Linked DNA regions of Homo sapiens: region 1 is linked to region 2. Evidence: fine-mapped expression QTL. A gene starts in region 2. The other region holds a variant in brackets. All regions are shown on one strand. Distances are between the middles of the regions. Region 1 overlaps ADAP2 (ArfGAP with dual PH domains 2). Region 2 holds the start of ADAP2 (ArfGAP with dual PH domains 2).

The links. PIP is the estimated chance that this variant, and not a neighbour inherited with it, causes the effect.
Region 1: its variant is fine-mapped to the expression of ADAP2 in whole blood (TOPMed, PIP 0.96).

What each region holds. Positions count from the first base shown.
Region 1 is chr17:30,955,956-30,961,324 of GRCh38, forward strand. It overlaps ADAP2 (ArfGAP with dual PH domains 2), which reads left to right. Exons shown (of 11, transcript NM_018404.3): 10 at 286-514; 11 at 1,880-3,367. The coding sequence ends at 1,914. It also overlaps a transcript of RNF135 not described here and the pseudogene RN7SL138P. Among named protein-coding and RNA genes, the nearest start is that of RNF135, 12 kb to the right of the region's middle. RefSeq lists enhancers at 1,259-1,308, 1,892-2,391 and a silencer at 4,518-4,567. The variant G/A (reference allele first, on the strand shown) is at 3,045.
Region 2 is chr17:30,919,292-30,924,660 of GRCh38, forward strand. It overlaps ADAP2 (ArfGAP with dual PH domains 2), which reads left to right and starts at 2,654. Exons shown (of 11, transcript NM_018404.3): 1 at 2,654-2,817; 2 at 3,649-3,779. The coding sequence starts at 2,724. RefSeq lists silencers at 2,395-2,834, 2,975-3,024, 3,185-3,344.

The DNA of each region.
Region 1 (5,369 bases), 37 kb after region 2:
CGGTTGGTCTCATATTCCTGGCCTCAGGCAATCCTCTGCCTTGGCTTCCCAAAGTGCTAGGATTACAGGCATGAACTACCAGGCCCACCCTCGGTATCTTTTCAATAGATGATGTGTATGATTTATTTTAGGGTTTTGATCTTTCAAATTCTGGGTCCCACTTAGCAGAAATCCCAGCAGGGACCTCATACCCCTTTCCCAAAATAAAGCTTGGAGGCTGTCAGGGCTGCAGGGCCCCTCTGCCCTGGGGGCACCCTCTGATGACCCTGTACTCTCCATTTTCAGGATGCCTTCGAGCAGGGCCAGGTTTTTCTTGGGAACAAGGAGCAGGGATATGAAGCCTACGAAGACCTGCCCAAGGGCATCCGAGGAAATCGCTGGAAAGCCGGACTCACCATTGTCACCCCAGAGCGGAGATTTGTCCTCACTTGCCCCAGTGAGAAGGAACAGCAGGAATGGCTGGAAAGTTTGCGGGGTGTCCTGTCCAGCCCCTTGACGCCCCTCAACCGGCTTAGTAAGAAGCAGGAACTGAGGGGTGTTCTTTTGGACAAGGGCAGAGGACAGAAAATTGCTTCTTCACTTAGGTTCAGCTTTGATACCACAAAAGATTCCTGATTCCTGACTATGCTCTTTTCATTGTCTTCTCTTCCTGCAAAAGAAAAGCACAGACATGCCATTATTGCCAAAAGGTCTCCTCTGTCCACTCTGGGTTCCCCTAACCGAGCCCTTCCCCAGGAGCTTTTAGAGGAGTTTGGCCCTGGCAGAACCCCTGGGTGCTGTCTGTACCCCTTGCGGTGTGGGGGCTAAGCAGCTTCTCTTTCCCTCCACCGTGCTCTATGCTGATCCTTTTTCTCGTGAGAAAACGCTGGCCTGTTATTATTAGCTAAGGTCACACCCGCTGGGCAGCTCCTGGGATTTTTGGATTCCTCCCCACTCCAGAGGGAAGGCTATTTCTAGTGGCTTCTTTTCTTTGAGTCCTCCCTTCTGTCTGCCTCTCTCCTGTTCCTCCTCTTTACCAGTAGGGCTTCCTCAATGCTGACAGCCCTGTGAAAAAAGGGGAGACATGCCGAGCTCCGGCAGGAAACTGCTGGCCCAGGACCTGGCTTCTGGGGCACAAAGGAGAATTTCTGTGTTTGGAAAAGTACAGACTGAGCAGGTGACCCCCGCACAGCCCCTTGGGGGAAACACTTGTGCCCTTTGAGTCTGACTGATATAAACACAGACTCTCTTGACTGTCCCATAAAGGCCAAAGCCAGAGAACCTCAGAAAGGGACTTGCAAATTGTGAGTGAGGCATATCAGCTGGTGCTTTCTTTTCTCTGTGGGCTGCCATTTATGAATCTCTTGGTTTCTCTCTGTCTCTGTCCCTCCACTTTTCTCTCCTTTGCTGGTGTGTGCATTCCCTCTGACGCCCTGGCTCTCACTCTTTCATTCTGTTTTTTATTCTGGCTCCCTCTGTCTTTGTGTTTTTTTTTTTAATTTTCTTTTTTTGAGGTGGGGTCTTGCACTGTCACCCAGGCTGGAGTGCAGTGGTGCGATCTCAGCTCACTGCAACCTCTTCTTCCTGGGCTCAGGCAATCCTCTCACCTCAGCCTCCCAAGTAGCTGGGACTACAGGCTCGTGACACCACATCTAGCTAATTTGTTTTGTATTTTTGGTAGAGACAGAGTTTCACCATGTTGCTCAGGCTGGTCTCGAACTCCTGAGCTCAAGTGATCCACCTGCCTCGGCCTCCCAAAGTGCTGGGATTACAGGCATGAGCCACTGTGCCCGGCCATGGCTCCCTCTGTCTTTGTACGCCTGTCCCTTTGCTGTCCCTCTCCTCCACAGGACAGCATTGGCATGGCCACCTCCCTCAGCCCTCTTCATTTCCCTTGCAGCTGCATCAACAGAGAGTGGCCGCAGCAGCAGGTGACCCATTAACTGAGGAACTGGCTGCCACTGAACACCTGGAACTCCTTGTGGGAAGAAGTTTGCACCTCGGCCCTGGCTGCCCACCATCAGTGCCCCGCAGTCAGCAGCCATTCCTGGCAGTGAACTCTGCCAGGACTGAAGCTGTGGCTTTATCCATCAGCTCCCTGGGCCTTCCCCGCAACCCACCTCGGGGATCTGAGGATCTGGTGCATAGATGAACATCTATCCCCTCCTCCCCCATACACACCTAGGCTTGAAATGCCCTACAGGCCCAGAACTTTCTCACATCTGAAATGGAGGCATTGCAATGAAAAGGCACCCACAGCATCATGCAAGTGGCATCTTGTAAAAAAAAAAAAAAAGTTTAATCTGAATCTAACCATGAGGAAATAATCAGACAAATCCACATTAGGGGCATTCTGCTAAACATCTGACCCAGACTCTTCAAAAATGAAGAGTGAAAGATAAAGTAGTCAATGGCCGGGCGCAGTGAGATTGCGCCATTGCATTCCAGCCTGGGTGACAGAGCGAGACTCCGTATCAGAAAGAAAAAGAGGAACTGAATGAAATCTCAGATGGCTGAAATGTTAGAGAAACAGAGCACCAAGTCCCCTGCTCTGTGACTCGTTGTTCCTTTCCTCTGTCTTCAAGCACCACGCAGAAATACACTGGATGTTCTCTCTTTGCTTCAATGGAGACCCAAGGAGCTGGGAGGTCTCTTAAGAGACTCTCTGATTCTCCGTGGCTGGGTGTGATGGCTCATGCCCATAATCCCAGCCCTTTGGGAAGCTGAGGCAGGAGGATTGAGACCAGGAGTTCGAGAAGAGCCTGGGCAACATAGTGAGACCCCATCTCTACAAAGAAAAAAAAATTAGCTGGACATGGTAATGAATGCCTGTAGTCCCAGCTACTCCGGACACTGATGTGAGAGGATCACTTGAGCCAGGGAGGTCATGGCTACAGTGACCCCTCATTGCACCACTTTACTTAGCCTGGGTGACAGAGTGAGACCCTATCTCAAAAAAAAAAAAAATCTATGCATTGTATGGGACTTTCCTTTGGATCCCCCAATCAAAGGATAAGCAATGCGTAAGCCTGTGTCCTTCCTGAAGCTTCTCGACTGCCCAGATA[G/A]GGAGGTGAGTCCTCTCTATCTCCTCTGGCTCTGGAAGCACCTTGAAAATGTGCATTTTCAAGGACACTTGCTGGGTTGTGCATTAAGGGCCAGTTTACTTGTCTGCCTCTTTGACCACCTGTGAACTCTGTTGGGTGTACTCTGCTAAGTTCTGGGGATGAGGAAATTAATAAAGGTACAGTCTTGCCTTCAAGGAACTTATGGTCTAGAGGAGAAGAACGAGAAGTATAGATAGGCAGTAACAAAGCTACTTGAAGAGGCCAACTGGGATTCTAAGGGTGGGAAAGAACAGACACAAGAGATAAAGTCCTAATGAAATGGAGTGCTTGGTTTTGGATGATTCCTTCCTCAAGGAAGAGTATGCTTCTATACTCTTATATTAAATCCCTTTTTCCCTTTTTGGCTTGTTAGTGCAAGGAAGTTTCTATTACTTGAATCAGTCCTGACAGATAAAGTTCTCTAAAAGAGATGATACCTATGCTGAATCCTGAAGAAAGAGTAGAAGATAGTTGGGTTGGGGTGGGAGGAGGCAGAGAAAGAAGCATGTGTAAAGGCTCAGAGATATCAGGTGTGCACGTGCCTGTAGTCCTAGCTACTGGGGAGGGTGAGGTGGGAAGATCATTTGAGCCCAGGAGTTCTGGGCTTTAGTGCACAATGCTAATTGGGTGTCCACACTAAATTTGGCATCAACATGGTGACCTCCCAGGAGTGAGGAATCACCAGTTTGCCTAAGGAGGGGTGAACTGGCCCAGATCAGAAATGAAGCACTTCCGTGCTGGTCAGTAGAGGGATCATGCCTGTGAACAGCCATTGCACTGCAGCCTGGGCGACAAGAGGGAAACTCCGTCTAAAAAAAGAAAATAGCTAGGCATGGGCACTGTAATGCATGCCTGTAGTCCCAGCTACTCAGGAGGCAGAGGTGGGAGGCTTGCTTGGGCCTGGGGGGTTATGCACTCCAGCCTGGGTGACAGAGTGAGACTCCGTCTCCAAAAAAAAAAAAAAGAAAAAGAAAAGAAAATTTGAATCACACTTCACTTGTATTAGCGTTCTCCAGAGAAACAGAACCAATGATATACATATATATATATATGGCTATAGAAAGAAATTTATTGGCCGGGCACGGTGGCTCACGCCTATAATCCTAGCACTTTGGGAGGCCGAGGCAGGCAGATCATGAGGTCAGGAGATCAAGACCATCCTGGCCAACATGGTGAAACCCCGTCTCTACTAAAAATACAAAAATTAGCTGACTGTGGTGGCACGTGCCTGTAGTCCCAGCTACTCAGGAAGCTGAGGCAGGAGAATCGCTTGAACCCGGCAGGCGGAGGTTGCAGTGAACCAAGATTGCGCCACTGCACTCCAGCCTGGCGACAGAGTGAGACTCCGTCTCAAAAAAAGAAAAAGAAAAAGAAAAAAAAAAAAGCCAGGCATGGTGGCATGTGCCTGTAGTCCCAGCTACTCAAGGCTGAACTCCCACTTAAGCCTGAGATTTCAAGACTGCAGTGAGCTATGGTCTCACCACTGCACTCCAGCCTGGGTGACAGAGTGAGACTCTGCTTCAGCAAAGAACAGTTATGTCACACCCCAAAACTCCCTTGTAGCCACACCCTTCCCCTGCCCCGTGGCAACCATTGATCCGTTCATCATTATAGATTGTACTTTCAAAAATGCCATATAAATGGAATCATTTAATATGTAATTTTTATTTTATTTTATTTTATTTTATTTTATTTATTTTATTTTATTTTTTTTTTTTTGAGACAGAGTCTTGCTCTGTCGCCCAGGCTGGAGTGCAGTGGCGCAATCTCGGCTCGCTGCAAGCTCCGCCTCCCGGGTTCACGCCATTCTCCTGCCTCAGCCTCCCGAGTAGCTGGGACTACAGGCGCCCGCCACTATGCCTGGCTAATTTTTTGTATTTTTAGTAGAGACAGGGTTTCATCATGTTAGCCAGGAGGGTCTCGATCTCCCAACCTCGTGATCCACCTGCCTCGGCCTCCCAAAGTGCTGGGATTACAGGCATGAGCCACCACGCCAGGCCTGTAATTTTTAAAGACTGGATTCTTTCACAGCACATGATACCTTTGAGATTCATCAAAGTCACTGCATGTGTCAATATGTCTTTCCTTATTGCTAAGAAGTATTCCACTATATGGCTATACCATACCTTGTTTATCCAGTGGAATGCTGCTTAGCAATAAAAAGGAACAAATTATTCATACATACAACAGTCCCCAGGTATGGGGCTTCTGGTTCATACTGATGCAGGGTAGGTAGTCAAGGAAGTAACCAGGGTCTCAGGACACAGCAATCATGCTGACCATTCA
Region 2 (5,369 bases):
ACCTTGGGTAACTTAAATCCTCTGAGGCTCAGCTTTCTCTTCTGTAAAGTGGCCTGATGTGATGCTGCCCTCTGAGGGTGTCATGAAGCTAAAATATGATCAAATGTGTGACGCTCTTGTAAAAAAAACACTCAGTAATTGTTCATTAGCATTGTCCTACAACCACCACCACCAAAAAAAAAAAAAAAAAAAAAAAAAGAAAGAAACAAAGAAAAGAAAAAAGAAGGGAAAAGAAAAGAAAGCATTATAAACAAAATACCAGAGTACATTGTTTTGCTCTGAGGATGCCTGAAATGCCACATTAAGGCTGTTTGATGGGAACCTCCAGAAATAAGGAAGGGAAGAGGGGAAACTAAAGGAATCTCTCAATCTCTGGCTCCTCACTATGAATGAGATACTGTATGTTCTCTTGGATTGGCTATTTTTTTTCTTTTTCTTTTTCTTTTTTTTTTTAATTTTTTTTTTTTTTTTTTGAGACAGAGTCTCACTCTGTCGCCCAGGCTGGAGTGCAGTGGTGCGATCTCGGCTTACTGCAAACTCCGCCTCCTGGGTTCATGCCATTCTCCTGCCTCAGCCTCCCAAGTAACTGGGACTACAGGCGCCCACCACCACACCCAGCCATTTTTTTGTATTTTTAGTAGAGACGGGGTTTCACCGTGTTATCCAGGATGGTCTCGATCTCCTGACCTCGTGATCCGCCCCCCTCGGCCTCCCAAAGTGCTGGGATTACAGGCGTGAGCCACTGCGCCCGGCTTTTTTTAAAGTTTCTGAGATTCAACCAGAGCCTACTTAGAACTGGGTTGGCTTTTGTGGGACCTACAGGGAGGTGGCAGTGAGACCTAAGGTGTCAGAGAAGCAAAGGAGCACAGACTGGTGAAGGCTCGGGTGCCGAGGAAGCACCCCCAGCATCACAATTTTGTCCCAGTGTTGGGCAGAGGAGAAATGTCCTTAGCTTGTCTCCTCTTCTCCCTCTCTCCCTCTTTCCTTTGCCTTCATACCTTAAGTTGACTTTCCCATCTTTCTCCTGGGAGATTTATTTCTGTCCCTTTTTTCATCTAAAGCAACGGAAATGAATCATCTTTCAGCCGGTTTAATAAACAGCCCCATGCCCCCTGACCCCAGCTGACTCTCTCACTGGTTCCTCTGTGGCTGCTCCTGGGCTAGGCCTCACCCCCTCACAGGCAAGACCCCCTCATGGCTGGCTATTCTTGGTAATACTCTCCACCCTCCCTTCCTGCTCAGTCCTGGCAGCTTGACCTCCTCCACCCCAGGGATGACGGGAATCACACACAGCATTCCAAGCGACAATTCCACAAGCTGACCATAGGGGCAGGGGAAGCAAGGAGGCCACCATGTTTGGAGGGTTTCTTTGTGCCATTTCAATGACCCTATTAGTGGATCTTACGCTCTCCATTTAACAGTTGAGGGTTTGGAGGCTCAGAGAAGTGAAGGAACTTGCCCAGAGACAAACAGTTGGGAAATGTGGAAATGAAGGAGTCAACATTTAAAGCCTGAATTTCTGGATTCCTGAATTCATTCCATTACACCATATTGCTGTGCGTGTGTGTGCACGTGTGTGCTTGCGCCCGCATGTATGTTGAATGGGAGTGTGGGCAGGTCAGCTAGAACATCAGCTGCAATTCACCAGGATGGAAACCTGATTTTATCCTGAAGGTTAACACCTGTCTATCATATGCATATGGCTTAATGCATCTGTGTGCATTAAGGTATTAACCTACATAGAAGATGGCAAGTATGTACAGTATATATTTCACCAGGAGGCCCATGAGTCATTGCAGATGATGTCAAGGAGTAACGAAGATGATGTCAAGCAGTAACAAAGATGGGAGAGAGGGAAAGAGGAAATGAAATGCCCACATTTAAGACCACCTATACCCTGCCTTCACCTCGCGGTGATGGAACTTCACAGGTTAAAGTGCCTGGCTGTGTCCACCTTGGTGAAACCACACTTTTCTGGTGAACAAAATCATGCAACTATTAGTTGGACTTCTAAAAATGTGCAGGTATCATTTATAGGAGCAATATGGAATACAGACATAAAACTGCTGACGTCAAACTCCCTGGTGTGGACATGTGTATGTGTCTGCGGTCAGAGAGTGGAATTAACACAAGTATATAAATAACCGTGATGCAAGGTAGATAGAAAGTGCTCAGGTCCAAAACAAATAGACAGATACTACAAGAGTATTCTTGGAGACCCAGAGGCTGGAAAGATTACTCCAGGCAGGGTATCACAGAGGGCTTCCTGAGGAGGTGGCATTTGCATATAAATACGTCTCCAAATAGATGTAAGATCTTACATTAACAGAACGCTTTAACAGAAGTTAGATTCTGGTTAATTTTCCAAGAAGCGCTGAGATGCAGACATATGCCCTTGTTCCTCTTTCATAGACGCGGAAACTGAGACCCACAGAGGTTGAATAGGTTGTCCACAGTCTCGTAGCTACCAAGTGACAGGCCACGATTTGATCTCAGGCCAGTGTGTTAAACTCCAATTTGCGTGCTCCTGTCCCTCCCCGCGCGTCGGCGGAGCTCGGGGCCGGACTGGACCTGCCGAGGGAGGGGCGGACAGTCCTGACGGTGCGGGGCGGGGCTGGCGGCTGCCCAGGCCTGGCTGAGGCGCCGCGGCCGGGTCCCTCTCCACCTGCCGGGCGGAGCGCACGGGCCATGGGCTGAGCCCCGCTGAGCCCGCCGGGCCGGCCATGGGCGATCGCGAGCGCAACAAGAAGCGGCTGCTGGAGCTGCTGCGGGCGCCGGACACAGGCAACGCGCACTGCGCCGACTGCGGGGCGGCAGGTAAGGGCGCGGCGGCGCGGGCAGCGCGAGACCCCCGGCCGGACCCCAGGCCCACCCGACTCCTCCCCTCGGCCCCACCGGGTCCCGCCCTCGGCCCCCTGGACCCAGACGTGGCACCTGCGGGCCCCGACCCCTCCCACCCACACCGTGAACCTCTCACCCGAGCCCCGAGGGCCGTCTCCACCACACCCTGCCCCGGCCCCTACGAGCCCAGGCTCTGCTCCCCTCGCGGGACCAGATGCGCATCTTCCCACGTGCTTGGACCCGGACACGAGAGCCGGCAGCCTAGAGCCCTTCCAGTCCCGCTCTCTTCCCTGGCCAGGCACCCGACCGCCCGAGTCCGGGCTCTCGATGTCTGCGCACCCAGGCGCGCCCCACGCCCTCGGACTCAGACATCCCAGCCAGGGCTAAACGTCGGGCCCAGGCCGCCGACAGTCCTGTGCCCCCTGCCCGCTCCCAGACGCCCCCCGAAGGCCTCCCCAGCGCCCCACCTCGGGGACGCCGAGGGCCCCCTAACTCAGCCTCCCCACCTGCAGCTCCGCGCCGAGCCCCGCGGTGCGCCCCCCGCGCCCTCCTCTCGGTTCCTTCTGAGTCCCTTCACTTCCACGTCGCGCAGCCTCAGACTCTCTCCCCGGGCCCTGAACTGCCTCCAGGATCTTCACCCCGGTCGCCGCGCAGCGGCCGGTGGGCTAACCAGAAGGTGCCAGGCTGGCCGCTTAGTTCGCCTTAGGTGGGAGAAGGGGCGCCCCACCTGCCCCAGTGCCCCGAGCCCAGCCCTGGTTTCTTCACCGCGCTTTCCGCTCAGCTCCTCTCCTGCCTCATCCCCTGCAGATCCCGACTGGGCCTCTTACAAGCTGGGGATCTTCATCTGTCTCAACTGCTGCGGCGTCCACCGTAACTTCCCTGACATCAGCAGAGTTAAATCTGTGCGACTTGACTTCTGGGACGACAGTATTGTGGAGGTAGAAAGGCATGCCCGTGGAGAGCCATGGAACTGCGGGACTGGAGTAGAGGCAGCGGGCAGGGGGCTCCCATTCTACAGAGGGGGAAACTGAGAACCAGAGAGGGGCAAGTCTAGCTAGAGGAAACACAGCTTATAAGATGGCAGCTTAGACAGAGGCCGAGAGTTCAAATTCTGGCTCTATCATTTGCTTACTTTTTTTTTTTTTTTTTTGAGACGGAGTCTCGCTGTGTTGTCCAGGCTGGAGTGCAGTGGAGCAATCTTGGCTCACTGCAACCGCTGCCTCCCGGGTTCAAGTAATTCTCCTGCCTCAGCTTCTCAAGCAGCTGGGATTACAGGCGCCTGCCACCACACCCGGCTAATTTTTTTGTACTTAGTAGAGACGGGGTTTCACCATGTTGGTCACGCTGGTCTCGAACTCCTGACCTCAGGCGATCCACCACCTCAGCCTCCCAAAGTGCTGGGATTACAGGCCTGAACCATCCTGAACCGCTCCTGGCCATCATTTGCTTACCTATAAGCTGGGAGGCCCTGAGCTAGGTACTTTGACCTAGCTGTGGACCCTCAGTTTCCACATCTGTATTCAAGGGATACCACCACCATTTCTCTTTTTTTCTTTCTTCCTTTTTTTTTTTTTTTTTTTTTTTTGAGACGGAGTTTCACTCTTGTCGCCCAGGCTGGAGTGCAACGGCCAATCTCGGCTCACTGCAACCTCTGCCTCTTGGGTTCAAGCAATTCTCCTGCCTCAGCCTCCTGAGTAGCTGGGATTACAGGCACCCACCACCATGCCCCGCTAATTTTTGTATTAATTTTTAGCAGAGACGGGGTTTTGCCATGTTGGTCAGTCTGGTCTCGAACTCCTGACCTTGGGTAATCCACCCTCCTCGGCCTCCCAAAGTGCTGGGATTACAGGCGTGGGCCACTGTGCCTGGCCACTACCACCAATGTCACAGCACTGTTGTGAAGATGATTGTAGGCTCAGTCCAGACACAAAGAAAGCTGTCAGTTAACAGTTGCTGTTGTACGGGTGTGGTGGCTCACACCTATAATCCCAGCACTTTGGGGGGCTGAGGCTGGTGGATTGCTTGAGCCCAGAAGTTCAAGAGCAGCCTGGGCAACATGGTGAAACCCCGTCTTTACAAAAAATACAAAAATTAGCTGGGTGTGATGGCATGCGCCTGTCGTCCCAGATACTTCGGGGGCTGGGGTGGGAAGATCACCTGAGCCTGTGAGAGTGTGGCTGCAATGAGCTGAGATCGCACCACTGCACTCCAGCCAGGGTGAGAGTGAGACCCTACCTCAAAAAAAAAAAAAAAGTTGCTGTTATCATTAGTGAAGTCTTGGACTGGGGGAAGGGAAATAACCTGATTTGTGGTCTAAAGTCCTCCTTTCCCCCTAGGCAGAAAGAGGACCACTTTGCTCTCCTGCCCTCTGGGGGTGGAGGATACCCTCAGCCTGCATGGTAATTCCATTTTGGTCAGAAAACCTCCAGAGAGCAGGCAGTTCTGCACTGTGCGGGTTGGCTGAGGGTTTCCAGGACTATTGGGGAAGCAGGCTGACATTTACTGAATGCCTACTCTGTGCCAGGTAC